Linked DNA regions of Homo sapiens: regions 2, 3, 4, 5, 6 and 7 are each reported to be linked to region 1. The links are microRNA targets in miRTarBase. Many come from high-throughput screens and were not tested one by one. Region 1 holds a microRNA gene; each other region holds the end of a gene's coding sequence.
Evidence for each region. The annotated mature microRNA hsa-miR-3941 reads UUACACACAACUGAGGAUCAUA and lies in region 1 at 2,484-2,505, shown strand. An mRNA with a match to its seed (bases 2 to 7 or 8) in the 3' UTR can be bound and repressed. Matches are read on the target gene's strand: a 7mer-m8 pairs with bases 2 to 8, a 7mer-A1 pairs with bases 2 to 7 and ends in A, and an 8mer does both.

Region 2: miRTarBase lists FOXL2NB as a target of hsa-miR-3941. Seed matches in the 3' UTR shown: 7mer-m8 at 1,715-1,721, 7mer-m8 at 1,703-1,709, 8mer at 1,225-1,232 and 7mer-A1 at 291-297.
Region 3: the mRNA of B3GALT5 is a reported target of hsa-miR-3941. Seed matches in the 3' UTR shown: 7mer-m8 at 2,467-2,473.
Region 4: the mRNA of COBLL1 is a reported target of hsa-miR-3941. Seed matches in the 3' UTR shown: 7mer-A1 at 2,783-2,789 and 7mer-m8 at 3,674-3,680.
Region 5: the mRNA of C18orf32 is a reported target of hsa-miR-3941. Seed matches in the 3' UTR shown: 8mer at 2,168-2,175 and 7mer-A1 at 23-29.
Region 6: the mRNA of ZDHHC17 is a reported target of hsa-miR-3941. Seed matches in the 3' UTR shown: 7mer-A1 at 2,836-2,842.
Region 7: the mRNA of RNMT is a reported target of hsa-miR-3941. Seed matches in the 3' UTR shown: 7mer-A1 at 2,735-2,741 and 7mer-A1 at 384-390.

The regions. Positions count from the first base shown.
Region 1 is chr10:122,414,541-122,418,886 of GRCh38, forward strand. It overlaps MIR3941 (microRNA 3941), which reads left to right and starts at 2,425; the gene lies at 2,425-2,527. PLEKHA1 (pleckstrin homology domain containing A1) reads left to right here. Exons shown (of 12, transcript NM_001001974.4): 7 at 1,319-1,462; 8 at 3,360-3,428.
Region 2 is chr3:138,949,842-138,954,187 of GRCh38, reverse strand. FOXL2NB (FOXL2 neighbor) reads right to left here. Exons shown (of 3, transcript NM_001040061.3): 3 at 198-3,923. The coding sequence ends at 3,616. Among named protein-coding and RNA genes, the nearest start is that of FOXL2NB, 4.8 kb to the right of the region's middle.
Region 3 is chr21:39,661,151-39,665,496 of GRCh38, forward strand. B3GALT5 (beta-1,3-galactosyltransferase 5) reads left to right here. Exons shown (of 4, transcript NM_001356336.2): 4 at 1-4,346. The coding sequence ends at 342. Among named protein-coding and RNA genes, the nearest start is that of B3GALT5, 50 kb to the left of the region's middle.
Region 4 is chr2:164,682,339-164,686,684 of GRCh38, reverse strand. It overlaps COBLL1 (cordon-bleu WH2 repeat protein like 1), which reads left to right. Exons shown (of 14, transcript NM_001365672.2): 14 at 653-4,346. The coding sequence ends at 739. Among named protein-coding and RNA genes, the nearest start is that of SNORA70F, 3.3 kb to the left of the region's middle.
Region 5 is chr18:49,478,674-49,483,019 of GRCh38, forward strand. It overlaps C18orf32 (chromosome 18 open reading frame 32), which reads right to left. Exons shown (of 3, transcript NM_001035005.4): 3 at 1-3,737. The coding sequence ends at 3,672. It overlaps RPL17-C18orf32 (RPL17-C18orf32 readthrough), which reads right to left. Exons shown (of 7, transcript NM_001199356.2): 7 at 2,505-3,737. Among named protein-coding and RNA genes, the nearest start is that of C18orf32, 6.4 kb to the right of the region's middle.
Region 6 is chr12:76,850,309-76,854,654 of GRCh38, forward strand. It overlaps ZDHHC17 (zDHHC palmitoyltransferase 17), which reads left to right. Exons shown (of 17, transcript NM_015336.4): 17 at 539-3,388. The coding sequence ends at 677. Among named protein-coding and RNA genes, the nearest start is that of CSRP2, 27 kb to the right of the region's middle.
Region 7 is chr18:13,759,315-13,763,660 of GRCh38, reverse strand. RNMT (RNA guanine-7 methyltransferase) reads right to left here. Exons shown (of 12, transcript NM_003799.3): 12 at 1-3,719. The coding sequence ends at 3,682. Among named protein-coding and RNA genes, the nearest start is that of RNMT, 35 kb to the right of the region's middle.

The DNA.
Region 1 (4,346 bases):
AACCACATGTCCAACAAAGGACTTTTATCTAGAACATAGAAAGAACTCAGAACCCAACAGTAAAAAGCCCAAGAAATCCAATTAGAAAATTCATGAACAGATATTTCATCAAAAGATAAAAGATAAACAGATGGTAAGTAAGCACATGAAAAGATGTTCACCATCATTAGCTAGCAGGGAAAAAATACAAATTAAGAGCACAATAAAAGATCACTGCACACCTCTCAGAATGGCTGAAATAAAAGTGACGACACAAATGCTGCCAAGGTTGAGGAGAAACATAATCTCTCAGGTGTTGCTGGTGGGAATGAAAATTAGCCACTCTGAAAAACAGTTTAGTGTTTATGTTTTGTTTTTTTTTTAATAATAAAAGTAAGCTTGTGATTACTGTACAACCCAGCATTTGCAGGACTAGGTGTTTATCGTAGAGAAAGGGAAAATTACATTCACATAAAAACTTGTGCATGAATGTTGATAGCAGCTTTTTTCCTAATAGCTAAAAGTGGGAAACAACTCAAATGTCCTTTAATGGGTGAACAGTTAAACAACTGGTCATCCATCCATACCATGGAAATATAGCAATAAAAAGGAATGAACTCTAGATACAAGGAACAGTCTGGACGAATCTCTAGAGAATTATGCTGAGTGAAAAAAGATAATCTCAAAAGATAACCTTCTGTATGCTTCCATTTACATTACATTTTCAAAATGTCAAAATTATAGTCTTGGAGAACAGATTAGTGGCTGCCAGGGGATTTAGGGGTAGGAACTCTAAAGTTCACAAAGGAGCCTTGGGGTGATGACCAATTCTGGGTCTTAAATGTGGTAGTAGTTACACAGATCTACACATGTGATAAAACTGCATAGAACTGTATAGACACACATAGATGAATGTATGTAAAACTGGTGGAATCCGAATAAAGTTTGTGGGTTGTGCCAATGTCCATTTCTTGTTTTTTGATAATGTTACGCCGTTTCCCTTTGAGGGGAAACTAGTGAAAGGGTACATAGGACCTGTTGTACTTTTTTTGGGCAGCTTCTGGTGAATCCTTATAATTATTTCAAAATAAAAAGTTAACTCCTTCCCCAAAAAAGAGCACTGGTGGCAGGACTTGTGCAAAACAAGAGGAATGGAAATTTGTGCTTTAATCAGTGACAGGAAAATTAAGAGTAAGTATCTCAGATTAATTAGAAAACTCTTCAAAAATCTGTTTCTGACTAATCTAAGGTGGATTTTAAGATTTTCTACTGGGATAATATGAAATAAAAGTATGCTAAACAAGCAAGAAAATAATTTATTTATTTTGCTTCATTTTAGAAAGAAGAAGTAAATGAATGTGGTGAAAGTATTGACAGAAATAATCTGAAACGGTCACAAAGCCATCTTCCTTACTTTACTCCTAAACCACCTCAAGATAGTGCGGTTATCAAAGCTGGATATTGTGTAAAACAAGGAGCAGTGGTGAGTAGCTTAACAAAATACATGAAATAATGAAAAAGGATTACGTTCTAGCAAACTCAAATTAACATGGAAATTGTTTGCTTTATTTTATGAAAGACCCAAAGTGAGAGACCGGCATGCTGAGGAGAGTCAGGAGATAAAATAGGGGATATTCTCTGTTTATAATTCAATGCTGTTATTTGCTTGGTTTGCAGGGGGCCAGGAAAGTTAATGCCCATTACCACTGACTTTCAGTTTAAATGAGCTTTCCTAACAGTTTAATGTTTTAGAAAGTGTTTCTATTCATCTTTACTCATACTCAGGAGTGGGTCAGGGAAAGAGAGCTGTTGTGGGGAGATGGCAGGCCAGCGGCAGGAGAAGGAGTGGTGCCTAGGAGGTCTCTTCCTTGTTTAGGCATTGGCCTGACCTCCGTGGTAAGCTCTCTGACCTTGGGCTACTTACTTAACCTCTCAGGCCCTCAGTTTCTGTCTTAAGGAATATCATATAAAACCTACCATCTAGGGTTTTGTTTTGTTTTGTTTTTGTTTTTTAAGAGATGTAAATAAGAAAGGTGTGTTTCCCTTTGCACAGCACCTGGTACTTAGTAAAAGCTGTTATGGGTTAGCCCAGGTATTCCCATATAATCAGTTCCATGATGAATTTTTTGCAAGAGCAAGTAAATTTACCAATATTTCTAAGGTTGCAACATACCTTAGTATCTAAGCCATTCTTTCTATGTGAACTAAATCTTTAGAATTTCATGAGAAAATTAACTTTAAAGTTTGAAAATGTTTTTTAAGTCTGTGAGTAAAGAAATACTTAAAATTATTTTGGTGGTTCTGTTTGACTTCTCATCACTTTTTGGCAACTCTTAATTTTTTTAGGGCAGCCAGGGGAATGTCCTTTCACCTGTTTGACCTGCTTTAGGCTGAGGAAAATGATGGTGAGGGCAGGGGTTTCTTACTGTACAATGTCTGCAGGTAGAGTCAGAATTCTCATCAGGCTGTGATGCTCAGTTGTGTGTAGATTGAAAGCCCTAATTTTACACACAACTGAGGATCATAGCCTGATGGTTCCTTTTTGTTTTACTCTTAAGTCCAAAATACCAGTCAGAGATATTTAAGTGCTTCTGCAAAAACTGTTATTTTATTGACAAAAAATATTTGTACAAAATAGGTTTACTTTATTAAATATTTAGTGCTTTACTACTATGTATAAAGTACTTGTGGAAGAATTCATATGTTTTTACAGATGGAGAAACTTGATGTGGTTTAATAACATTTCCTGTGTTTGCTCTTTACATGGGGTTGGCGGGGGCGAGGAGTAGGAGGAAGGGGAAGTGCTTTTAAAAAAAAAAAAAGTTTCAACATTAAAAATATGAAATAGGCCAGGCATGGTGGCTCACGCCTGTAATCCCAGCATTTTGGGAGGCCAAGGTGGGCGGATCACCTGAGGTCAGGAGTTTGAGACCAGCCTGACTAACATGGTGAAACCCTGTCTCTACTAAAAATACAAAAATTAGCTGGGCATAGTGATGGGAGCCTGTAATCCCAGCTACTCGAGAGGCTGATGCAGGAGAATTGCTTGAACCCAGAAGGCAGAGGCAGTGAGCCGAGATCGCGCCATTGCACTCCAGCCTGGGTGACAGAGCAAGACTCTGTCTCAAAAAAAAAAAAAAAAAACACATAAAATCATACAATAAAAGATGAAAGCCAGGCACCAGAAATTGAATTAGGAATTCAAAGCCTGGGTAGCTAGAGAGGGATGAGGTTTAATTTATCGCATCTCTAAGGGAAGTAATGAGATTTTTCACTGCTTGGCATGTCTGATTGTGGGTTCATATCAGGGTAATTAAGTGGTGACTAACATTTGACATTCTTAGAAACACAAGTCTTATGTCTGTGTTCATCTCTGGTAGATGAAAAACTGGAAGAGAAGATATTTTCAATTGGATGAAAACACAATAGGCTACTTCAAATCTGAACTGGTATGTTGTTACGTCATAAATGTTGCTATAAGAATGTTTGAAAAGTGTTGCAATGTAGTGATTATATATAATTTCTTGTACTGTTCTGTAGTTTCAGAATAAGTCTAGTTTTTAGAGGTAAATATAGTTTATTTGGTTGTGATGCTTTTGGTTAATGATATTTTTCTTAAATACATTTTTAAGTAAAAAGATCCTATCTTCAAAGCAGCATTCCACCTTGAAAGATCTGAAGATCTCAGAATCCTCTAGTCTATAAATTTCCTCTAAAGGGGCTGTCCTCTTGGGGGGTTAGCCCCACGTGGAGTAGGGAGAGAAGGGCATCCACATGGGGAAGGGGTGGTGGCAGAGATGGGAGAATGGTCACATACACAGTGATTTATAAAATCAGGAACTATATTAAGTATAATAGAAGCCAAGTCTTTTCAGAGAAACAATACTTTTTGGTGAATGAATGTATATCTGTATATATGATGAGGAATGAGATATTTACATAGTTTCAAAGTACCTATCTACTAAAATAGGTATTAAGTATTGTACAAGGGGAAAAAGAGTAACATTACAGTGAGGAAAGTGGTGTAAAGAATTCTGTCTGTAAAAGTCAATATTTAACCCTCTGTATTTCTTTCTCTTGAGATTTTCTTTACCTATTTCACATTGACTCATAAATCACTTCACATAAGATGTTTTTATCTTCCCTGAAGGTAGAATCAGAAATTGAAATTCCCTCTTCGCCTTGTTTGAGTTGCATCCTTATTTAAAATATTGTAGGGTGATCTGAGTCCTGAAATAGCTTATTGGAGACATTGAATGCAATTCTGTAGTATAAATGTCTATCCTACGTCTTCTTTTTGTATGGGATCTTTGAGAAGGGAACTTATACTTTGTTTGAATGAAGTCACCAGAACAGCATTGTCCATT
Region 2 (4,346 bases), not on the chromosome of region 1:
GTGCAGCTAAATAGTGGTTTTTAGAGAATGCTATCTATAAGGGAAAGGCCCTGTTAAAGTATGTCTGTCTATCTGTATATCACTGTATTTGGTTTTATCACTTTGGAAACTGTTTGACTGAATCTATTGAAACTAAATATATGCCTACTCCTACAGTTCACTCAAGAGTAGTAAAATACCCTTCACAAAAAGACATGTACAACAATGTGCACAGCAGCTTTATTTATGATATCCAAAAACTGGAAACAAATGTCCCTCAACATATGGATGGATAAGCAAATACTAGAATATTACACAGCAATAAAAAGAAATAAATGTCTGACACATGCAACAAGACCAGTGAATATTAAAAATATGTTGCACAGAAAAAACTAGACATAAAGGCATACATGCTATATGCTCCATTTATACGAGGCTCAAGGCAGGCAAAGGTTATTTATGGTGATAGAAATCCAAATATGGTTTCCCTTTTGAGGCAATATTGATTGGAAAAAGATATGAAGGAACCTTCTGAAGTGCCAGAAATGCTCCATATCTTGATCCAGGTGGTGGTTACATACTGCATTACATGTCAGAATACATCAAGCTGTATATTGTTTACCATCTGTAAGTTATACTGCATACAAAAATATGGAACAAGGCTAAATGCCCATCAACCAATGAGTGGATAAAGAAAATGTGATATATATACACCATGGAATACTACTCAGCCATAAAAAGGAACAAAATAATGGCATTCACAGCAACCTGGATGGAGCTGGAGACCATTATACTAAGTGAAGTAACTCAAGTATGGAAAACCAAATATCCTGTGTTTTCATTTATAAGTGGGAGCTAAGCTATGAAGATGCAAAGGCATAAGAATGACATAATGGACCAGGCGCAGTGGCGCACGCCTGTAATCCCAACACTTTGGGAGGCCAAAATAGGCAGATCACTTGAGGTTAGGAGTTCAAGACTAGCCTGGCCAACATGGTGAAACCCCATCTCTACAAAAAATACAAAAATTAGCTGGGCATGGTGGTGCATGCCTGTAGTCCCAGCTACACAGGAGGTTCAGGCAGGAGAATCACTTGAACTCAGGAGGCTGCAGTAAGCCAAGTTCATGCCACTGCACTCCAGCCTGGGCAACAGAGTGAGACTCTGTCTCAAAAAGAAGAAAAAAAGAATTATATAATGGGGACTCGGGGGGGGAAGCGTAGGAGGGGGATGAGGGATAAAAGATTACACACTGGGTACCGTGTACAATGCTCGGGTGACAAGTGCACCAAAATCTCAGAAATTACCATTAAAGAACTTATCCATGTAAGCAAAAACCACCTGTTCCCCCAAAACTGTTTAAATAAAAAATAAAAAACTGACTGGGCATGGTGGCTCACACCTGTAATCCCAACACTTTGGGAAGTTGAAGCAGGCAAATCACCCTGAGCTCAGGAGCTCAAGACCAGTTGGGCCCACATGGTAAAACCCTGTCTCTACCAAAAATACCAAAAAAAAAAAAAAAAAATTAGCTGAGTGTGTTGGCTCACACCCATAGTCCCAGCTACTTGGGAGGCTGAGGCTGAGATGGGAGGATCACTTGAGCCTGGGAGGTGGAGACTGCGGTAAGCCAAGATTGCACCACTGCACTCCAGCTTGGGCAACAGAGTGAGACCCTGTCTCAAAAAAAAAAAAAGTGTTTCATAAAGTTATAGTGCACACATACACACACACATACACACACACACACACACACACCCTATCTTGGCATGAGGAAAATCTCCAAAGGTAGAACAGTAATACAAAACTCAGCCCTTCTCCCTCCCTTCCTCTGGACTTTGTGCCAGCTAGGCATCTAAAACTGCCTTCCTCCATGGCAGTTGCCTATCATCTTTAGAAAGTGCCCGCTTTGTGGGAGAAAATTGAGCCAGGAATGAGGACCAAGGGGGAAGGGCTCTCTCTGGCATCCCCTCATGGGTTAGCGTGCGGGTGGAGACTGCAGGCCTTACCTTGCAAGCCAGCTGCCCTGAATGCAGAGACTTCTCTGTTTCCAGTAAAGTCTAGTTTGAATGTTTCAGACAGGTCCTCACCATGACTGGGAACTAGGGAGGTGTCCTTGCCCTTGCCTAAGGTTCAGCACCATGGCCATGCAGCTATAATAACCCCAAATGGCAAAGAACTCTCAGATCCTGAGCTGGCTGTCAATGATCAAACCGCTTTTCCTCAGCTACAGTCCCTTTCTTGGAAATTCTAACTTCATTATAACTTCATTATAAGGAAAGTGGCATTTCCCAATTCTGTCCAGCAGAACCATTTTCTAATTCTATTAAAAGGCATTAAGCCCATCCTGGTGGGGAGCACTGAGTGAGAAGTGGAGGGCAGAGTCTCTGCCCATCAGCGCTTACAGTCTGGGTGTGGAGAAAGGCAACAAGGCAACTTTTAAGAACACATCATGTTCCCCAGCAAGCCTGAGGCCTACTGGCAAGGCACTCACTGTTCAGAGCTGAACAAAATGGCTTTGGGCCATAGATGTCATGAGGGATATCAGAGGAAACTTGTCAGCAGCTCCCACCACCCTAGAATCCGCCTCTGAGAGCATCCCACGGGTCTTTGGAGGGAAGAGGGCCTCACTTGGCCCAGGACCCAGACCCTTCTGCCTTTTTCCCAGTTGGCCTCCACCATGAAAAAGGCCGACAACTGCCCTGCATTCTGCCTGATTGACGATGGGGCACATACTCCTTGGGACAAAATGGTGTTGGAGGACTCATACCCCAACATCAGCAAGGTAAAGAGGAGCCCAGAGCTCTGGTCTACTGCCTCTCAAGCCCTTCCTGGGGGAGAAAGAGGGGAGCTCAGTGAGACACTTAACAACAGGAAACAGCTCTCATGTGTGAGTTCTTCCCAGAGTAGGAGGTCGCTTCTCTTTCCTCTTCCTCAATATCTCTCTCTCTCTCTCCACTCCCCTATTCTCTCCCAAGCACATATGTGAGTAACTGACTTTGCTAATCCCAACCAGGCAGACTAATACCCACTGGCTTCAGACCTGGTGCTATGTGGGTGTCTGCTGCTGCACCTTGTTGGTCTGAGCAGCAAACTCAGCAGAGTTTCGAGACAGAGATAAAGCCTGTGTGAGTGGCCTGTGCATGTTAAAGTGTATCTGGAACGTGCTCAGTACCTGAGCTTCTCTGTGGTCTGTGCGGCAGTCCCATCATGAAAACACCCAGGTGGCAGCCCAGTCACCCGAATCACAGGCCAAGGACATCAGAGAATCAACAGGCTTCTCGGAGTCAGGCTTGTAAACCTGGAGCCCATTGGTCCTTCTGCACCGTGAGATGCGAAAGTGAGCAGCGTGTGAAAAGCCTTAGGGTCTGCACATTGGCTTGACATGTTTTCCACCAACATGTGCAAAATCTGAATTAGTACGTGTAGCTGGTGAGTGTGAGAGAAGTAGGAGGGGAGGGAGAACTAGAGGGGATTTGGAGTTGACAGAGGGAGAAGGAGAGAGAAGTGGATGGAGTAACGTGACCTGAGTGGAGGGACACCGAGTCCCTGAGGTGTGGGTGCAAAGGGCCCTGTGAGGGGCCGGGAGGGAGTGAGTGCTGACAGTTGTTGAGGCGTGGAGTGTATGGGGATGTACTAATAGACACAGTGAAGCTTCCCTTTGCTAGCCAAGCACCGCAGAGGCCATCCCTCCAAGCAGAGGGTTGCAGCAAGCTCTATTCTCTCCCGCTCAGGAGCGGGAAGCCGCCGGGTGTTTCGGGGTCCCGCTAGGAAAGGGGACAGCGGAACCTGGTTCAGGCAGCCGGCGGCGGCGCGGGACGAGCTGAGTGGTTCTAGCGAAGCGCTGCCTGCCTCAGAGCAGCCGCGACGCTTCCCTAGTAGAGCTGGGCCGCCGGAAGCCCGAGGCGCGGGCGGCTTCTGCCGCTGTTGCAGGATTCCCGGCCCTGGGGAGAAAAGCGTCTGTATCAGAGCCGTGTAGATTGCTCGCGCCGGCTGTCGGGACCTCCGAGGCGCGGGGCCAGGCTGCGAGGAGGCGCGGGAGCTGAGACTGCGCTCAATCGGCGGTTCACTGGAACCGTATCCGCAGGCGGCGCTACGGTGGGACCACGGTCAGGAGGCGCCGGTGGCTGCTGAATTGCAGCTGCGGGACCCTGGAAAACTGGGGCAAAGAGGCAGTGAGTTCTGCCCAGCCCACCACCCTGGCCTTTGGAGGTGAGCGCCGCCCCAAGGTCACTAAGCCGGGGGCCCTGCGTCGCCCCAATGCCGCGGGGAGAAAAGGAACCGGCCCTGGCGTCCACAAAACCTAGGCACAGTATGCCCTGTTCAGAGAGGATCCCGACCTCGCCAGCAACCAGCCTACCTCCGAA
Region 3 (4,346 bases), not on the chromosome of region 1:
TGGTTTGTCAGTAAATCTGAATATCCGTGGGACAGGTACCCACCATTCTGCTCCGGCACCGGCTACGTGTTTTCTGGCGACGTGGCGAGTCAGGTGTACAATGTCTCCAAGAGCGTCCCATACATTAAACTGGAAGACGTGTTTGTGGGGCTCTGCCTCGAAAGGCTGAACATCAGATTGGAGGAGCTCCACTCCCAGCCGACCTTTTTTCCAGGGGGCTTACGCTTCTCCGTATGCCTCTTCAGGAGGATCGTGGCCTGCCACTTCATCAAGCCTCGGACTCTCTTGGACTACTGGCAGGCTCTAGAGAATTCCCGGGGGGAAGATTGTCCGCCTGTCTGAGGGGAGCCCAGAGGCACATCCGGACAAGTTTCAGATAACCCGTGGGGATAGTTTTTGCTAGATTTTGGAAGAGGGGGCGGGACAGAGGATGCTGTTCTTCAGTGCTGAAATCCACGCCAGAATGTCGGTGTTCATGAAGTCACTGATTAGTTCCCACTTGGTGCCCCAGGCAATAATAGGCCCGTCTCTTGGGCACGCACACTCTTCATACTAAGTGTTTGACATACACCTGGATTTTTGCATTTCAGGGGTCAGTATCCTATGACATGATGGGTGTTACCATCCTAATTTTACAGGCAAGGACACAGCAGCTGCGAGAGGTACAGAAACTTGTCCCAAGGCTCACAGCCAGTAGGCATAGGAGCGGGAATGAAAATCGAGCACTGTCAGAATCTGGTGGGCAGCCCCTGACTTGAACCACTCCCACGTGCTGCCTCCCTTAGGAGGGGACACTGATGATGAGGTCTCGGAGCCGGCATCCTTCCATCCCTGTCGAGTCCCCTCCACCTCAGCTCCCAGTCCTTGTGCTTTTTGGAGCTAAGCCTGGGATGACCAAATTCACCCCAGCTCCTTCATTCACAGGGCTGGATGTAGCTGGGATTGAGTCCATGTTATCGGCTCGGTACTCAACACAACCCAAGTTTCATCCGAGGAAATGTCCCCGCAGTGGATGCAGCTCACATGCTGAGGAACACCCAGCTCTGGACAGAGTTCTTATAAATGTATAAATTAGGCTCAGAAACCACTGCATTCTGACCTGCTGTACAGACTGCCCACACTGCTGACCTGCCTAGCGAGCAGGACATCCCTTCTGAGCCATCTGCTGCTCTCTCATTTCATCACCCCAACTGTCCCTTGTTTTTGATCAATGGGGACCAGCCACTGCCCCAGGAGCACTTTAGGGCTCTCAGTTCAAACTGAAGGACAGTTGAACTCAGATGGGGTTCATGTGGGATTCTGGGAGCTTTCTGGGAATTCAGTTGGAGTCAAGTCAGGATGCTCTCAAGGACCCCTCGGGCTCAGAGCCCTAAAGTGGGCCCTGGTGAAGCAGGGTGGTCCTGCGTCCACTTCCCAAGCCTGAGCCAAGCTCATCTTCATTGAATGTCTCATTTGGCCGAGGAACAACTGAACTTTGTGGTTTGCTGTTTAGCCTTCAGTTTGCTCCGCTGCCTCCTACCCAGAGGTTTGTGCGAGCCTGTGTTGCAGGGTTGTATAAAACCAAGGTACTTCGTTAGTTTTGCCCATTCAGCCATGGTCACGTGACATGCAAAGTAATCTTGCTCCTAATTATAGAAATGATTTTTCTTTTAATTTTTTACTTTACCAGACTTTACTTTGTACTCAGAGAAGAGGCCTCACATGGCTGTGTCACATATAAATGTTGGACTAAACTCTTACTTGAACTCAGGAAAAGTTACTTGCTGCAAAATGGTTTTGACCATGTTCAATTGCAAAAGTACGTCTGATATCCTATTTTGCATACCATTTCTTGTGTTTGGATTAAGCTGCTTCTTTGTAGATGTGTTTCCTCATCCTGGCTGCTCTGAACGCACTGGGTCATGTTCAGAAAAGCCTCCTTCTCAGGTGGAAAAAATCAGGGACTGAGCTTGTCTTTTGAAGCCCAAATTTAAGAGCCACGCCTCTCGGTTCCATAGGATGGGCCGCCTCTCATTCTGAAGATGACTGTGCTTTGAGGGAGAAGTCGTCTGTTTGGCAGTAGGCCTGCGTCTGTGTTTCGTGGTCTACCTTGTCAGGTGTGTGTCTGTGTGGCCACTGGTCTCAGTCGGCGAGGCCGGTCCAGCTGCTGCCTCTGTGTGACTGGCTTTGGGTCTGGCCTTCACAGCATCAGCTCACAGCCCACAGCTCCAGGGACAAATGAGGACAGGCGTGGGCTCTCCCTACTGCTTCTGTGTGTTCTTAAAGGATTTTCTTTGAGACCCATTGTTTCCCCTCCCCTCCCCTCCCCTCCCATCCCCTTCCCTCTTCTTTTCTTTTCTTTTTTTCTGACAGGGTCTCACCCTGTCACCCAAGCTGGAGCGTAGTGGCCTGATCTCGCTGCAGCCTTGAACTCAACGAGCCTCAAACGAGCCTCCTGCCTCAGCCAGTGGGTAGTTGGGATTACAGGTGTGTATTTCTTTATACAATGAATAATTCTTTTTCTTGAGGAAAAAACATTATTTCATGAATCTAGAACTTGAAGGAACCTTAGAGCTCATTCAATCCTGCCTCCTCTTTTATGTGGGATGCAAACGAGGCTCAGAGAGACGTAACAACTTGCCCAGGACCTTCCCAGCTTGTTTGTTGCAGAAGGAGGGTTCCAGCTCAGCGTGGGTTTCCTGGTGCTGTCTTGTCTGGATGTGAGAGTGAGAAACAATGTGAAAGCATGAGTGAGGAGGCCAAGCAGTGCTTCCCCAGGAACACCCAGCGCTAGCTCCAGAGTGGGAATGGAGAGGTCCAGGTTGGCCGGGCCGGGGCTTCACCGCAGGCACCCAGAGAGGAAGGATTCCGATGGGCAGGTGCTGAGCTAGGGGCTGTGTAGGTATTGCCTCATCTACATGCTCTCAATGAGTTTTCCGGGGGCAGAGACCTGCAGTTGCTCAGGTTTACAGATTAGGAAACTGAGGCAGAGAGAGAGAGGGTGAACAACTCATTCAAGGTTACATAGGTGAAAAGTGGTGGAAACGGGGTGACCCTAAGCTGCCCTGTGGCCTCCCCAGCCACCTGCTGACGGAGCTGTGGGAGCACATTGCATTGGCTGCTCCCACTGCCTCTCTGGGGTGCCTCCTCAGACTCCCCCAACCATACACGCCTACACCCAGCCCCCAAACCTCCGTACTCTGCCTTCTACTGTGACTGTGGCAGAAGCCACTTGGCCCCCGTGGTGCCAGAACCCCTGGTATTGGACTGACTCCAGCTCTTCTTCCACAGCTCCTGATGTGGCCTCACTCTCGTCCTACCACCTGCTGTCCCCTCTGCTGGATCACCCCATTAGCACACAGACACGCTGCCATTTTCCACCTGACCAGAAATGGCCACCACCTTCCCCGACCCCTTCCCTGACCCCCTTCCCCGTCCCGCTGCCCCATCCTGTTGCGTTTCTGGTGGAACCCCGCACGAGAGTTTTACTTGTCTGTTGCCTCGTCCTAATCCTTCCCTTCTTTCCCAAATGCCGTCTCATCAGACTTCTGCACCCCCACTCCACCCACATGGCCCTTCTCAGGGCACCCACCACCCCCTGTGGCTGGGTCCTGTGGGCAGTTCTTGTTCTCCTCCTGCTTGACGTGGCGAGTCCTCATCACCAGCTTCCAGGACACCGGGTGCTCTTGGTCTCCCTCCTCCTTGCTGCTCGCCTTTTCCATCTCCCCTGCTTGCTCCTTCTCTTTGCTCTGACAGTGTCGTGCTGGAGGATCCTGGGCTCTGCGTGGGGCCCCCTTTCTTCCCTGGTTATACCCAGTCCTCCGAGGGGCCCACCTTGTCTCATGGCTTTAAATATGTTGATGATGTTTCCATTTATCTCCAGCCTAGAACTCTTTCTTGCTCTTCAATCCACTGCCTACCTGATTTCCCATAGTGAACAATCCAACACTGACCTTCTGGTTAACTGCCCCACATCCAGCCCATCTGCAGCCATTCCCGTCTCAGGTAATGGCCACTCCATCTTCCTGCAGCTCAAGTGGGAAGCCCTGGAGCCATTCCGACTCCTCTCCCATCTGGTGCATCAGGAAAGACTGTGGGAACTACCTTCAAATTCTCTCCAGGAGCCAACCACCTCCTGCCCCTCCACTGCGACCACCCTTGTTCAAGCCTGCATTGCCTCTCACCTGCATTCGTGCAGCTACCTCCAGACCCTCCCTCAGCTTCCATTATTGCATCCTTTGGTCTCTTCCCAGCAGCATCCAGAGTGATCCTTTGAAAATCTCATTTCTCTGCTCAAAACCCTCCTGAGGTTTCCCATCACCAAGGATATTAAGGATAAAAACCACATCCTTCATACCATTGTCTAC
Region 4 (4,346 bases), not on the chromosome of region 1:
TTTTTATTCACTTATAGTTTGTGAATAGAAGACTTTGCCATAGAATTTTGAAACTTAGGAGTTTACTTACTAAGGAAAAAAAAAAAACTCCTTTTCAGTCTTCAGTCATTTGGCTTAACAGTCACAGATTTTAATTTTTAAATCCTTTATATGAAAGCATTTTTAAAACCAAGGGCTAGTTTTTTTGTTTTGAATAAATAGGGGGCCATTGGGAGGGGGATTTCACGTTAATTTATACCATCAGTACAAAACTTGTAAAATTCATTGCTTTGTGGAATTCACTTTATCTTTCTACATTCTCAGAGGCAGTTTTGGGGAGCCAGAATTACAGAATTAATCTAGCTAAAAATGCTCTTTAACAGCTTGGTTTGCAGTCTGTTTGTGCTCTTGTCCTTTGTGTTGATTTGGTAATTCTGTACAGATTAAGATGTGTTAATGGATTATTTATCTTATTTGTTGTGAAAATAACGACTCTCTCTTTTTAAATTTTATGGTAGAATGAACATTTATTCTTGATTATAATTTATTGAATAATAGATACTTATCATTTACAATTAAGCAGAAGTTAAAATGTGGTAACTGTTGAAAATTGAAAATTAGACAGCTATCCCATTTTAAATTGATGGGTGCAAAGTGTGTTTCTTTCTCTTAGGTTACCATTCCATCAAATACAATATCTGTGAATGGAAGGTCAAGACTCAGCCATTCCATGTCCCCTGATGCCCAGGACGGCCATTAAATGTTACCCTGCCACACCACTGCACTTCACTTCCACTTCAGACCAACTTCATACTAATGGAACATTTTGGCAAATGTATATTCAGATGTACACTAATATATTATCTATTAAAATATTAGAATTTGTGTTGTGGCTTTTAATGCCAGAAGAAAAGTTACCAGAATTTATAATTTATAGTAATTTTTTGATCTTTTTTTTGCCTTAAGAGTTGAATATGCTGCTTTAGAACTTTAAAACAAGGTGTAAATGATTTTCATTTTTTACAAATGAAAAATAATTCCTTTGTATTGATTTCACTTACCAGCACATTCTCTACAATGGTGACTTAGACAAAAGTATAAGATTCATAGACTTTATATTTGTATGACATACAACTAGGACAAACATAGATATGACATTTGCTGCCTCAGTGTAGCAATTGGAAATATTTATAAGTTATATGAAAGCCTGTTTTGGGCTGAAAGAATGATTTAGAAAACTAGTGATACCAAATAAGTATATTCAGTTCAATAATTATTTTCAATGATGAATCACTTAGTGTGAAAGACTTGCCTTGTGTATTCTTTATGTAATTACAAATCACTGTCAATTTTATGGGAAGCTCATAGTATTTTAATATTTTATTAACATGGAACTCTTGTTTTTTTAATCTTTAGAACTTAAATTCTACAAGAATTTTAAATATTTTCTGTATATAATTATGACATTGTCACACAGAAATTACACATTTTATGTGCCAGAAGCCTTAAACATCTTTCTGTGAAAATGCTGATATATTGTGACAGTTATTTCACATTTGATATGTAGAGAGGAATAGGGGTTAGTTTATGTTTATATTGAAAAACTTTAAAGACTATTTGGAAGTTCCAGAAATTCTGGTTTTAATTCAAGTAAAATGATAAAATAGTCATTATATAGTTCAGATGCTAATATTCTAAGTAATAATATATATTTACATTGAAGCTAAAACTGTTAAGCAAAACAATGCCCATTTGTCGGCTTACAGCTCTTCCGGAGTCTAGAGCCTGTTGGTGTTCTGTCCCTACTTTAAGAATTTAATTGCTCACTTATTCTGAAAGCTTTGTTCAAACAAGATGATATTAAATTTGTTTTCACTAAAACTACTGGGATATCTGCCTCTTGGGGATTTTTTTTTCAATTTAATAAAAGCAAGTTGTATATTTGGGGTGCTTTTTAAAATATATAGTTTGTGTCAACCAGCATATTTATTTCCCTTACCTGATGCATACATTTCTATTAGCCAGTGAACAAACAAGAAATTTGTAAGATTTACCATTTATCAGGGATCCCTAGTGTACATTTAAGCCCTGGCATTCTGACTCCAAAATGCATGGTCTAAGCATTTAAAATGTTTAGCATAGTTCCTGATACATGGCATGGCCATCTTAAATGCTAAATGTTGCTGCTGTTTTCCTTGAATCAGTTGGAGAGACCCTCATATATAGATACTTAAGTTATGTTGTTATAAGCAAGTAGAGAAAGGAGTGAATTTTTTTTAAAAAATTGTGTTGTCATAATTATCTACTTATAAAAATATAAATTTGGATCCCTAATTTAAACCTTCATATATTTTGAGTTGGATTGAAGACTTAAAGACAAGCGACATGTAAGATGTTTTCAATATATTAATATATAAGAAAGGCTTAATTTATGAAGATATGAAAGTTCCTACAACTCATGATAAGTCTACCTAATAGAAATATCAGCACATTATTCTTACAAGAGGAAATTCAAAAGGCCAACAAACATGGAAAAAAAATACTCTTCACTGATAATCAGGGAAATACAAGTTAAAAACATGGAAAGGTACCACATCAAATTAGCAAAAACGGAAGTTTCAAAATAGCAAGTGTTGTCAGGAACATCAAACAGTGGGAACTCTACTGTTGGTGGGAAAATACACTGGCATAACTACCAGTTCTGCAATATCTAGTAAAATTAAAGATTCCTTACCATGTTACCTTAAATAAGTACTTATGCACATGCATAAGGAGACATCTGCAAAAATGTTCACGGCAGCCTTGTGTAAAACAGCAGAAAGGGGTCCTAACCCGTGCTCAGCTTTAGTAATGCATATATTCATATGATAGACTTCCACACAGCAGTCCAAATGAACAAGCTAGAGCTATATATGTCAGCATGAATACATCTCAAAAACAAGTGACAAGAGTGAGTGGTGGAACAAGTCGTGTTTTATGAAATTAGTTACATAAAGTATAAATATAAAAAATGATACTATAAATTATGGCTGTATATGTAGGAAAAAAATTTGCTGGTGGTTACCTGTGGGAACCAAGAAAGACTGAATTGAGATTTATAAGAGGCATCAATTGTGTTCGTAGTATTTTATAAACTGCTGTTTGAAAACAAGTGCTTATTATATTCTAAATTCTAGTATACTTGTAGTTTATAATTATAATAAAATAATGTTTTAAAGGTCACATAGGATTTAGGGGGCTATGTATATAAACCATTAATACATGTATGTTCTGAAAAGTTGCCTTATCGACACCATTTTAGGAGAACATGTGCTATCCTGTCAATGGGGAAAGAAATTTGTGACAAGTAGTTTTCACTCATCATATCCTAAAATAACAGCACAAGGAAGATACAGGAATGGTCTAGAACCAACTTTTGACTTTCATGTATAATTTTTAGCATCTAGGCATTTTGCTTTTCCTTCTTTCCTCCAATCAAGTTATTTATTTATATAATATTAAAATTATAATTCAGATTACATATATATGATAGAGTATAAAATACATTCTTTTTCATCCCCAGCATCCCACTCTCCTCTCCAAAGATAGCTGTTAATATTTTGATATGAAGCCCTATATAGATGTATTTATATGAAGTACATGTGTGCAGGTTTGTTGGGGGCTTTTGTGTGTGTGTGTGTGTGTGTGTGTGTGTGTGTGTATGTGTGTTTCTTAACATGAAAGGAGGTCACACTCTAATACTATGTAACAACTTGCCTTTTATACCAGCAGTGTTCTGGAAGAGCTTTTCTTTTTACACATACAGATCGATCGTATTTCTGTTAGCCATTCTATTGTTTCTTGCTGCGGTACATAATGTTGGCTGGAGTGAAGAGATTGGGGTTCAGATCACAAGTCTGCCACTTATGAGTCATGGGATCTTGGGCAAATTACTTTCTCTATGCTTCATTTTCTCTTCTGAAAAATGAATTAATATGAATAAAAATGAACCTTATTTTAAAAACGGCAGGCAATTCATCTTTTAAAGTTACCTGATGTCAATACTATAAGTGAACAGGTATTATTTGCCTAATATACTCCCTATTCTTTGAGGAGTGACCCTTCTTCCGATTTCACCTCTTCATGAACTGCCAGATCTGGCCTTGGCCACTAGGCACTGGCAACAGCATACACACTCTGTCATCTTATCCAAGTCCTTGAAATGAGACCAATCTTTGTCCTGAGACTTAGTTACTTATAGGTGCTTAAAACCCAAAGCGTCCCAATTGATACAATTATGTATGTGTCTAATTCCAGTTTACTTTGTACCCACTACCAGTAGAGAAAATAAGTATCAAAGAACTAAGAATCAAACTCATCATTTTTAA
Region 5 (4,346 bases), not on the chromosome of region 1:
ACTAAAAAGGCAGCCCTGACCTTTACACAGACAGATGTTGATATTTTAGGGCAAAGAAACATTTGTGTGGTATCAAACAGTGGCTACCAACTCCAGCCCATGGATAACTGATAAAAGCTTTTAACAATTAGCCTCCAAAATAAGAAAAATATGAACAAAATAGTGAATTTTTCATAAAATTAACACTTTTCATACGCTTATTCAAACTGATGGCTATTTTTGTCCACTATTCCCATGTTCTTTTTCACTCTTCTGGTGTCAAACTGTCTTTTACGAAATACTGGTAATAAATTGTAGCTTTTTGATATACTCCTGCTTGGAAAAATCAAAAGTTGGCAATTGCATACTAGCCACCCCTATCCTGCTTTTAAAATGTTGCTAGTATGAAAACAACGACTGGGAACCAGTGTTCTAGAGAGGGAGACTTGTTAGAAATGAGAAAGGCCTTAGGAGACCCGCAGCTCTCTGGAAAACAGGCTTAAATAAATTGGAATCATCCCGGGGACACTTTCCAAAATTATCCATACTCAACCTCCTAAAAGTATTGAATTAGAAAACTGCTGTGCTACAGAAAAAATGAGGGATAAACCAAGAAGGAAGAGGATAGGAAATCCAGAAACAAGACGTCCAATACAGGAGGGTGGCAACAGAAAGTCCCGAGGACTGCAGTGTGCACCAGGTCTAGGCAACAACTAGGCAGGAGAGGTGTATGGGGAGAAGGTAAACTGGTCACTCCAGGAAGACACCACCTGTATATTAAAAGGGACGCAATCACAGTGCATTAACCTGTGCAGTGAGCAATAGTATTCTCCCAGGCAGTGTCCCAGCAAGCCAGATAGCACTCTTGAGAGGAAGCAGTAGCCCAGAGCCAGTAACAGAAATACCACCACCCCTGGGCCCAAAAGGGCAGGGTGAAGGACAGGTTAGGAAAAATAAAAGAAGTCAGGTGGAGTTGGCTGCCTGGAGTGTTCCTTGAGGCACAGTGACTTCTGGCTGAGGAACAGTTGGCCTGAGGTGACCTTGCAGAGAGAGGGCCAAGGGAATAAACACTCTGCCTTCATTCTCCTCCCTCCAGCCATCTCCTGCTATGGATCGCTATTGGCCAAACCCAGCAGAACCCAGAGACATGGGAAGTCTGTTGATGTCTATACAGCTTCCTTGGGCTGAAAGCAGGATGAGGGGAGCAGAGACTTGGGAGGGGCAAATGAAAGACACCTGGCACACTCATGCTATGAACACTGATGATGTAAGCAAAATTTACAAAAGCACTTGGGAGGATGTGTGGGAGGAGCAGAGGCAGTGTAAGATAGCGGCATCTCAACCATTATGGGAAACAATGTCTGAAGTTGATGGCTCAAAATATAACAGTATAGCCAGGCAGTGGCTCATGCCTGTAATCCCGACACTTTGGGAGGCTGAGGCAAGAGGATCACTTTGAGGCCAGGAGTTTGAGACTCGCTTGGGCAACAGAGCAAGACCCCGTCTCTACAAAAAATTAGCCAGGCGTGGTGGCACACACCTGTAGTCCTAGCAATTCAGGAGGCTGAGGTGGGAGGATCACTTGAGCCCAGGAGTTGGAGGCTGTAGTGAGCTATGATGATGCCGCTGCACTCCAGCACCTGGGTGACAGTGAGACCCTGTCTCAAAAAATAAAATGTTTATATTTTTATATTTTTATAATTTATTTATAAATATGGAGATAAATTTAAAAAGCCCACAGCTCAGTAGGTAAAACCTTTGAGGAGCAAAGAAGTAGGGACAATTAGAAACGTTGCAATATTACTTAATTTTTAAAAGATGATGTGTGGGCCAGGTGCAGTAGTAGCTCATGCCTGTAATCCCAGCACTTTGGGAAGCCAAAGTGGAGGATCGCTTGAGCCCAGGAGATCGAGATCAGCCCAGGCAACATGACGAAACCCTGTCTCTATAAAAAAAATTACAAAAAACATTAGCTGGGCATGGTGGTGTGCACCTGTAGTCCCAGCTACTTGAGAGGCTAAGGTGAGAGGATCACTTCAGGACTGCAGGTCGAGGCCATAGAGAGCCGTGATCATGCTGCTGCACTCCAGCTTGAGTGACAGAGTGAGACCCTGTCTCAAAAACATAAATAAATAAAAATGATGTGCATATTTAAGAACAAATTAATTTTCAAAAAGTTGCTAGAAGGTTACACACAAAATCAACTGGGGCGGACTCTGGATGCACTGCCTATGAATTAGCCTTGCTCCACAAGGAGCAGCACTGTTCAGGAAAAGACTACTGTCTAACAAAAACAAACCATACAACAACAACAACAAAAAAACAATTGGTTACCTCTGTGGAGCTGGAATAAGGGAATGAGAGTTGAGAAAAAACATTCGCTTTTCATTTAGGATCCTCTTGCATTGTTGTACTGTAAATATCTGTTATTTTTATAATAGTATTTATACCTTAAAAAAGTTTATTTGCTAATGAGAATTTATCTTATCCCTCAGGTGGCTTTGGACAGAAAAGCTGAGACCTGCTGATTTACATGATTTATATCAAATAAAGCCCAAGGTAAATCAGTGACTTGACCAGCCACAGAACTTAATAGAGCCTGAGTTAGGACCCAGACTTCATTAGGGACCCAAGGGCAGGAGTTCCTTTTAATCTTTCCCAGCTTCAGAGTGAATACAAAAAATATATAAGGATGCATCTCATCATCTTTGAATATTTATAGGTCCCTACACTGAATTTTCAAAGCCCAAGATAAAAATCACATAGCGGCCCAGGTCCAGACCCAGGCCCAGCCAGCCATATGAGTGAGCCCAGAACAGCAAAGAACTGCCCAGTCGAGTCACTGCTGCTGAAAACCACTAAATTTTGGAGTGTCTTGTTACGCAACAATAGTAATTGTTGTCCCACCACTACACAGATGCCATCACAACATCCAAATTCTGCCTTCTGACGTGGTGAAAAATTTCCCTTTTGAATATTTCAATAGACTTTAAAAGAAAATGAACTACCAGTTAAACTGAATGTTTAATACATTTGTAGGAACAGAAGAAATGCAGTAAGGATTAAAATTTTATAATTAGACATTAATGTAACAGATGTTTCATTTTTCAAAGAAGTTTCCCCCTTTTCCCTATCTTTTTTTAATCTTCCTTAGAGCAATAAATAGTAATTACTATATTTGTGGACAAGCTGCTCCACTGTGTTGGACAGTAATTATTAAATCTTTATGTTTCACATCATTATTACCTCCCAAAATTCTACCTTCATTTCCCTGCACAGTTTCACTGGACTGTTTCACAACAAAATTGTACTCCACTCAAATTAGAAGAGCCCAAAGAAATTAGAGCAAACAGCAAATTCATATGAATTAGAGAACCAAAGATTTTAAAGTGCTGATTTAGTAACATAATGTCTACTGGCACAAACCTTCTATTTAATCATATTATTCAAACAGCAATAACAGAAATGAAAGCTACATTAACGAAAAAGGAACTTAGGAATGAGGTCATTAAATATAACTAACTACATTTTAAATACGGATATCATATATTTCCTGATTAGTATCAGGTAAATATCTAGACTCCTATCCTGAATTCCGGTCTCAGATAAAAAGGTCAGAGACAATTACAAGGAAGATGCTTCATATTATCAGGTCCATTTTTTAAATGATGGGGTCCTTTAGGAAAATTTCTTTAGTCTTTCTTTTTATCACAGATTTCTGTTGGTCCTTTTGTTGGTAATCCATTCATGTCTGCACCCTAAAATGAAAAAACATTTTAGAAATTATCATAACAAGCCGGGTGCGGTGGCTTATGCCTGTAATCCCAGCACTTTGGGAGGCTGAGGCAGGCAGATCACGAGGTCAGAAGATCGAGACCATCCTGGCTGACATGGTGAAACCCCGTCCCTACTAAAAATACAAAAATTAGCTGGGTATGGTAGCATGTGCCTATAATCCCAGCTACTCAGGAGGCTGAGGCAGGAGAATCGTTTGAACCTGGGAGACGGAAGTTGTGGTGAGCCAAGATTATGCCACTGCACTCTAGCCTGGTGACAAAGCGAGACTTCATCACAAAAACAAAAACAAAAAAAAAAAAAGAAAGAAATTATTACAACAAAAAGATATTAAGAGACATTCTGTCTCTCTCTTTTTTTTTTTTTTTGAGATGGAGTTTCATTCTTGTCACCCAGGCTGGAGTGCAATGATGTGATCTCGGCTCACTGAAACCTCTGCCACCCAGGTTCAAGCAATTCTCCCACCTCAGCCTCCTGAGTAGCTGAGATTACAGGTGCCCACCACCGCGCCTCACTAATTTTGGTATTTTTAGTAGAAACAGGATTTCACCATGTTGGTCAGGCTGGTCTCA
Region 6 (4,346 bases), not on the chromosome of region 1:
CTTAGGTTCACTGCCAGATTCATGCTATTTATAATTATTTTGTCTTTTACTTTTTTTCTGTTTTAGAGATAGTTTGTCTCCTGCCAAAGAGCCACTAATTAAAGGTTTTTATCAAAAATTACATATGGAGCCAGGCATGTTGGTGCATGTCTGTAGTCCTAGCTACTTGGGAGGCTGAGGTGAGAGGATTGCTTGAGCCCAGAGTTCGAGGCCAGGCCGGGCAACATAGTTAAGACCTCATCTCTAAAAATAAAAATAAAAATGCATATAACACAGAAAGTATATGCACATTTGAATAAATTTAAAATATAATTGTGTAAGTCTTTAAATTGGCAAAAGAAAAAATCATTGTTGGCAGAGCAGTGGAGAAACATGAAGGCATATATATTTTATAGAGTTATGAATTGGTTCCTTCTTGCAAGTAACCTGAGTTTTTAAGTTTAGAAAAAAATATATTTAACACGAAAATTATATTGAATTCATGTATTAAATCATTTGTACTGACTGACGTGTTTTCTTTTTGGGGTGCTGTTTTTAGCCATGGATGTGTAAGAAATATTATAGACTTCTTTGAATTTCGATGCTGTGGCCTCTTTCGTCCTGTTATCGTGGACTGGACCAGGCAGTATACAATAGAATATGACCAAATATCAGGATCTGGGTACCAGCTGGTGTAGCGACATCTTATCCTATGAAGCATATTGCTGAGTGGTGCCTGAAAATTGTGTCTGTCCGTGTCTTTCTCACACTCGAATCCACATCCTTTGAACAAGAGCATGCTATGTGTAGGGCTAATGGTGAATTTTACAGTCTTTTTTTCAACACTTTTATTAACAAAAGTAAACATGGACAGAACACACTGCCATTTCTGGGAAGAGTAAAGATGATAAAAAATAATTTTAATGGTTCTTAATGTGGAAATTCACAACATACTCAACTTTTGGGTTTTGTTCTCACAGTATTTTTCACAAAAAAAGGGTAAACTTATTCTATTGACAGACATGGTGTACTGATCAGAAATGTTCAGTTTTAACTAAAACTAAATTTATGTTATTTGGCTAAATGTTATGATGCAGTCTAGTACGAGTATTGCATCTAATTCCAGGAGCATTGTTTTAAGTTGATTGACTAGTTATTATGTACATTTCAGAATGTACACATAAATACTGTGATGAAAATCATGTGATTGGGATCTACTGTGATGTTGTCTTCAAAGGCAGGAGAAAATAATGTTCACAATAAAATGTGCTAACAATGTTTTGTTTCTATCAGCTGTTGCAATGCTGATATATTTCTAGTTCAGTGAAATAATTTGTAGTAACCTTACTCTGAGGTTTTACGGTCTGATAATGAAGCACTTGCATGAGTATAGTAAGTCATGTTTTTTTGTTCAAATTTAAAAGCCCTGCTAATTGCATGACACACCACATAGAATGTATACTAGCAGATACTATCCAGTGAAGCATAAATTAGAATTTAATTTGATGTTCAAAAACAGTTCCATTTTTAAGGGTTAAGGTGGTATTTTCAAGAAAAGGCAGAACAAATAATGCAAAATTCTCAGTAATAGTGATACATGGATATACTTCCTTTTAAATTCTCAGCTGCAAAATAATTGTAGACAAAATAATGGCATTTAACTAAAGATGGAGCATGATCTAAGTACATAGCACATGTGAATAAAAGAAAAGCTGACAGTATATTCTGGTTTCAATAAAATGACCTATCAGAAAGTAGAATTTCATCCCCAAGAGTATTTCAGTTTATCCAATATTGAGTAAGTTCTGAAACAGTTTTAGAAAAAATTTTCTTTTTGTTAAATGTGATGCACTGATCAATTTTTGTCACAGCATTTTCATACCTTCATGGTGGACTACTAGTCACTGCTTCCATAAATATTGTTTACAGGGTGAGATTTGGTTTATTCATCTTAAGTGCTGTAGCAAACTGTGGTTCGAGCAACCTGTGGGAAATCTGTGAGAGGGAATGGGGTGGGAGATGTGGGGGAATGGTGGTCAGACTGATGACAGATCCTAGACCAATGTAAAGAATGTGTATCTGTATATAAATAATTTATCAAATAGTTTTCTCTTTGTGTCTGTGTTAGTGTTTTTAAAGCTGCTCATTTCATTTTGTCCAACCAAAAAGAAAAGGGAGATAACTAATGAGCTTCTAGTGATGTTCAAAATTGCTGTTAATAGGCATTATACCCTGCAAGTTCACTGCATGTCTGATGCTTGGTAAAACTAGTCTTCCCTGTAAAATGCAGATTACAGGTATTAAAGCAATCTAGTGGTATACCCGCCCCTTGCCTTAGTAAGAGGAGCAGTGAAATGTATATAGTTGATGTTCAGTATTTCCAAGTACCATTTTTATATAGTAGCTTATTTGACCATAAGTCACACATCAAAAAAAGATTACCCTTAGTGTATGTGTTTTAATATTAGAAAATTGGCATATGTACTTTATTTTTGAAAAGGGAAGAGATGGGTGTGGGGTGGCAATAGCATTGTGCCATTTTGTCATAGAATGTAAAAATTGGTTAACTTTACAAATGTCAGCTAGTTTTGACTACTAATTGGGGGAAATTTTAGATAATTTTTAAATTCAAAGTTATTTATAAAATGCTAGAATTTGTTTTAATTTTTTGTATTTTGAGCCACTTCACATGAAGACTCAGTTGCATTTTTATCGAATACATTTTTATCAACAGTTAAAGACTATGGTGGTTTTTTCAGAGTTTGGCTAAGAATGTTGTTACCATCTTCTTTGTTTGTGGTACAATATTTTCAGTGCAAAAGAGATGTCATTCAGTTAAAAAGACAAACCTCTAGATGTGTAATTACATGGAAAATACTAGCAATGTGAATGCTTTTGTAGTAACCATCTTGTAGTACCTGTGAAATCTATAACTCAGAAATGGTCAGATGGTCAGGAGCCAGCTATGCAGCAGTATACCATCTGTTTAATTATTTTGTAGGTCCTGTGTGTGGAACCAACTATAAACCCAGTTCTAAAGTTGTGTATGATGGTGAACCTTTGGGAATAGTTCTTATCAACTTAATTGGATACTTTTAGCAAATAGGAACTTAATTCTCAGCACTGAACATGAATTACTTCCTTGGAGTTTTTTTTCATTCATATTTTTGTTGTTTCCAGGAATTTATTTGATATTAATGGGCGTAAAACAGCATCATTGTACTTAAGCTATGGATGTTTTTATTTTATATTTTCTTTATTTATAACTGTGCCAAGTATTATTTTGCTACTTACCGTGTTATTCTGTGGAAAGAAAAACCTGTAAAGTGTTTAATAAATTAGCCCTCCTTACATAAATTAAATGTCAAAATTTTGTAAAATATTAATCAGAATAAATACTGACTCTTAAGTGTGTGCTTATGATTTCACTCAATTTACTTCAGGAAATTGATGAAATGATAGTGGTACCTATGATATGAAAAGATTATACATTTATATCCTGGTTAACTAGGAGTCAAGTGGCATAAGACTGTAGGAATTTGGAAAAATAAAAGATGGTGTTAGTATTCTAAAAAAAAAAAAAAATTTCCAATCCTGTGTGTATGCATGTGTGTGTGTGTGTAATTTTTTTTTAAATAAAGATAATAAATTTTTTAAGAATTTTTGAATTCCATGTAGTTAATTAGGATCCTCAGGGACTGTATGAATCTCCAAGTTTTAAATATGTCTAAAGATACTAAAGAAAAATATTGCAAAATGTACTATATAAAGAAAAATACTGCAGAATGAAACCTACCAAACGTTGATCTCAGTTACTTGAGAAGATATGCGTGGCAGAGAGAACTTCTTTATTTGGGACTTTAAAAGGCAAAAATTATTAAGGAACTGTTTCCTGTTGTTCCAGTGGTTGTTAATGGTTTGAGAACCCAGTGGTATTAAACAGGAATATTTTCAAATTGGACTAATACTCTATCCATAATTTTAGTCTGGAGTTCAAGTAACAATATCTTGAACAACTGTATAAAGTAAAGCCGCTAGTTTTCATTCCACCCAAGTATTTTCCTCCTCATTGTCTACTTTTTATCTCTCCTAGTCCTTGCTAGATTGATGTATCATACCTGATATGGATGTCTGAGTCTAGGAGTTTTTAGACATAATTGGAAACAAGTGGTATATACCAGGACAGAAAATCTTAACATCTTGTCAGAAAGTAAAGTGCTTGTTATCAGAGTTTTCTATTAAATATATTTATGTGACTTAAAATAGAAAAAGTAGATTGAGCATTCAGAATATTCTTTGGTCTGTGTCAGCTAAGTCAGAAACTCAAGGAAACCAGGTATGCCTCTTAGAAAACTCTTGCCTTTGAA
Region 7 (4,346 bases), not on the chromosome of region 1:
GAATAACGGTGCTGAGATGTTATAACAATCAAAATGAGTTACCACAGGTGAAGAATTTAGCAAAGTGACTGACTTAGGTAGGAGGCTAATAAACATTAGCTGTCAGCTCAGCTTTGTCCAAGGTATGTTGCCCCCAAAAAAGCACAACCCAGGAGAAGTCCAGGGAGCAGGGGACTTTAGGGCTTGCTCAAGTCTCCACAGCCAAACTGGAGAGTACCCTTGGATGTCCTGTGCTTCCTCAATATCGTGGTGAGGTGCAGGCACTAAGGAGTGGGGTGACTTTAGGCCTACATGGGAGCAGAGGACAAACTGAGCAGCACGAGAGGGAGGGAAGAACTGACAGTGCCCTGGGATCCAGTCCTGTATGCATCTGCTAAATATCATTACACAAGTGTAGTAGCCTTTGCACTGGTTGCCTTCAAAGAATTAGGAATGTTGTTCTGTCAGAGGGCGGGGAATGAAAACACTTGTCAAGTGTGCAGTGTTTGATATAGCAGCAACTAGGGAGGTTCTAACATCACACACTTGTACTTCCTATTTGACCAACAGGCCATCAAGTACCACAGGCATTTTGGTACAACTTCTATTATTAGGGCCTGGTCCCTGGATTTGGCCTCTATTTTGCAGACCCTAGAGACCCTCTGTGGTGACTGGCTTGAGATAACCCAAATGCACAAGGCCTGAGGTAGACAACAGAAAGTCAGTTTTTCAACAAAAAACAATGTTTGGTAGCTAGAATATTCACACTGGCATTTTCACCCTGCAGGCAGACCTATACAAGTAGCCAAACCTTCATTACAAAGATACTTGAAGAGTACTTGAATACAAATCAAAATGACATAATGGCACTAAGCTAAAAAACAGGCTGAAAAAGAAATTCCCAAAGAGAGTTAACAAAACTGGATACCTGGCCATCTCATGGCTGAGCAAGCTTTGTCTTCTTTTCTATGATCCTGACCAATATACTCCCAACTCTGCTCTGATCCTCTATTAACATGTGAAGTCAGAGAGCGGTCATGCTCCCTCAATTTCCAAGTGTGGATGGGGGAGCAGGCTGGGAAACTCACTGTGCTGGCAATCTACCTTTCAGTCATTTCAAGATTGCATTAACATAAGTGAGAGTCTCCACCCAATGTTTTCTCCAGCTGAAGGCCAATTTCTTTGGAGAGTCACCCTGGACCCAGAGAACCTGGCTGGGTACTGAAGGCACAGCAGGGCCAAGCCTGATGGTGCAGTGACTCTGCAGAGTCACTCTCACAGAATTGCAATACTTTCCACAGGTTAGAACACGGCTCCCACAGAAGTGGTTAAAAACTGCCAGCTCCTCTCCCTGAACACAAGCCACTAGTGCTTTCTCAAGTATATTCTAGGCCCAAAGAATTCAACATCAGCATTCTTGGTTAAATCACAATCCAGCCATGTTCCCAGATCAATCATCGCAATCCCCAGTTCCGTCATTCCCACCAATAGCTGGTTAGGTCTTCATTTCCAATTCCATTCTCAGAGGATAAACTGCATGGCAGGTCTGGGAGTGCCCCACTTCACTGAGCTTGCAGCAACAGGTGCTCTTCCTGGCCCGACGGTGGAAAGCCATGCCTCCCTCATAATAGTTACCGTAAGTCCTGAATAGAATACCGAACATTTAGACGACAAGGTGTGTCAAGGAAGAGTCCTACTAGCTCCCTTCCACCTTGGTGATCGGAGAGGATAGGCAGGGGAAGCCTTTTCTAGTCCTCTTCCTAACAGTTCTTAAGTCAATATCCAGAAACTTAATTGTAACAAGGAGACACAGGGGCTTGGGGCCGGGGGGAGGGGGGTGTAGGGTGGTGGAGGAAGAACTGATAAGGCAAGAGACAGGCAAAGCTCAAGGAGGAAGGTGGTGCCTGAACACAGCGCCTGCAGGTGTGGCTCCAGTAAGCCTCCCTGACACCAACAACAGTGGGCTCAGTCCCCAGAGCATCTTCTCAGATCTAATCTTGCTCTCTGCTCCTTTCTGTTCACTGAAGGCCTTAGTAACTCTACCTTTCTGTTCTCCCTGCTTTGTATTACCACTGGCTACTCCATCGTTTGGAGGATTCTTCTCTCCCCCAAGTTACCCATGGCGTGGAAGAGGTTTCAGGCTAAAAGTACATGTATTATTATTACCTGTTAATTAAGACCAGTAAATGTGAACAGAGGAAATAATGATGATGTTTTTCCTGTACCTACAAAGCTATCAATATACTTCCTGGCACTGCCCTAGAATGAAAACGAACCTGCATATGTGACAGGAAGACTTCCTTTCCCCACCTCACTGACACCATTTACAAACCTTTCCTAGCTAATACAGCCACCAGAGTCAGATGCAGTATTACTTATTTCCAAAATGACTTAAGGCAAAAAGACTTATTTTTGTAAACTGGTAACACTTTGTGGAGATTCACAGGCTGCAGAAGGAACTGAAATGAGGAAATCCATATTTTCTTGCTAAAAAGTTTGCAACTCTAACACCATGAACAGTTAATAGATGCACACTAATGAAGACACTATGTTTTTAAAACAAGTATTGTGAATTACAGAAAGTAATGTTTTTGTAAATCATGGCTTAATAATTTAAAAAAGAATACTCAATTGCTCTGCTTCATTCTTGAAGTTTTTCACTACATCTACATCTAAAAACTGGTAAGTTTTCCAAATGGTGGTGTAAAGCAAGGACAACAGTTCACATAAGTACCAGTTTTGGAAAAGCAGTCAGTTACACAAGTGACAACTTTAACAATGGCTCCTACGGTGCAAAGTGCTGAGGTTGTAACAGAGGAACAAGTATTGCTTATTTCTGAAGTGGGTACATGGCATCAGATGGTGAGAATATTCCTACTGCAGTTCCATGTATAAATTTGGAAAAAATGTGCAACATGTCTACATGGGAGGGATTTTCACTAAATTTTGAGAAAAATAACTATGGCACCATTTGTTCAATGAAGAAAGGTAAATGTGTCTAATCACAATCTTGATAACTGGAAACATTAATTACTATGGTAGCAATTTCTGAAAAGAAAGCCCCAAAATTCCAAAATTCTATGCTGCCACTTAAAATGTTCTAACCAGCTCCTGAATTGCAGCATGTTAATGATTATTTCAAAATGCAATAAATTGCTAAAATTTTAGCTAAGTAACTTTTATGAGCATCTGAAATTGAGTTTTAAACTTATAACTTCAGCAATACATATTGAACACTTACATTCAACTGTACAGACCATTAAATGTTGAAAAATGCTATATAACAAAACCATAGAAATGAGCACACTATGAAAATGCTCTCTGACCAATTCTATAACTGCAATAAATTGAATACTGTAAACACACACAGGACAAATCTGAACACTGTGGAAAGAGTTTAGTTGCTTTATCAAGTCATATTATATTTTTATGAGCTAAGATCATAGAGGCAAATGGAATTCTTAGAACATTACCTAAAAATAGATTTTTAAAGACAGAGGTCCCAACTCATTCTTATATACACATGCAAAAGTTCATCTGTCACAGACAGCAAATGTTGAATTTCTACATTGGAGTTTCTGGCAGCATCCTGCACATTTAGAATTAAAATCAACAGACAGAGAAATATCAAATATATCGAGATGAGTTGTTCAAATTTGTGCAGGACAGAACACGGCCCCTCTGGGACTACTGCCTATGTGCTCACTGCTGTTTCTCAAAGGCAAACACCAAGTAAATACCTAAAGAAGAAATAAATAAGAGTTCAGTTTCTCATATGATTACAATAAATAAAACAATCTGTCTTGTTCATAATTTGGTGAAAATTCTTAGGCTCTCAAGCAGCTTCTGAAGAGGAAAATCCCCATTAATTCTAAGAGTTCCTCTATTATTTGAATCATTTTTAGGCAGACATGGGATGGTACTTGCTTACTTTAAAACAATTATCTACTTACTATAATACTCAGTGATATTGCAGCCCATGGGAAAACCAGTTCAACAGCTCTAAAAATCAGTTTAAGGTAAGAAAAATAAAAGTATAACTAAATTAGAAGTATAACAAATTAAAATTATAATAAAATTAAATTTTAAATAAGTATAACAAAGAAAACTAGAATTAAAAATATTAAAGATATTTTAGAAAACTAGAATTAAAGGAACATACATAACATGACATGTTAACAATTCACCCAATTATCCAATTATTGTGTTGTAGGGCCTTGTGAAGAAAGTAAGCCAAAAGCTCTACGACAATCAATACTTCAGAGATATTATTTCTATTTCTACATGTATTAGCCCCAAGAGCTCTCTCCCTGAAATAAGGTTTCCTGCTTTGACTCAAAGACAGCTAAATGAATTTAGGATTCCTT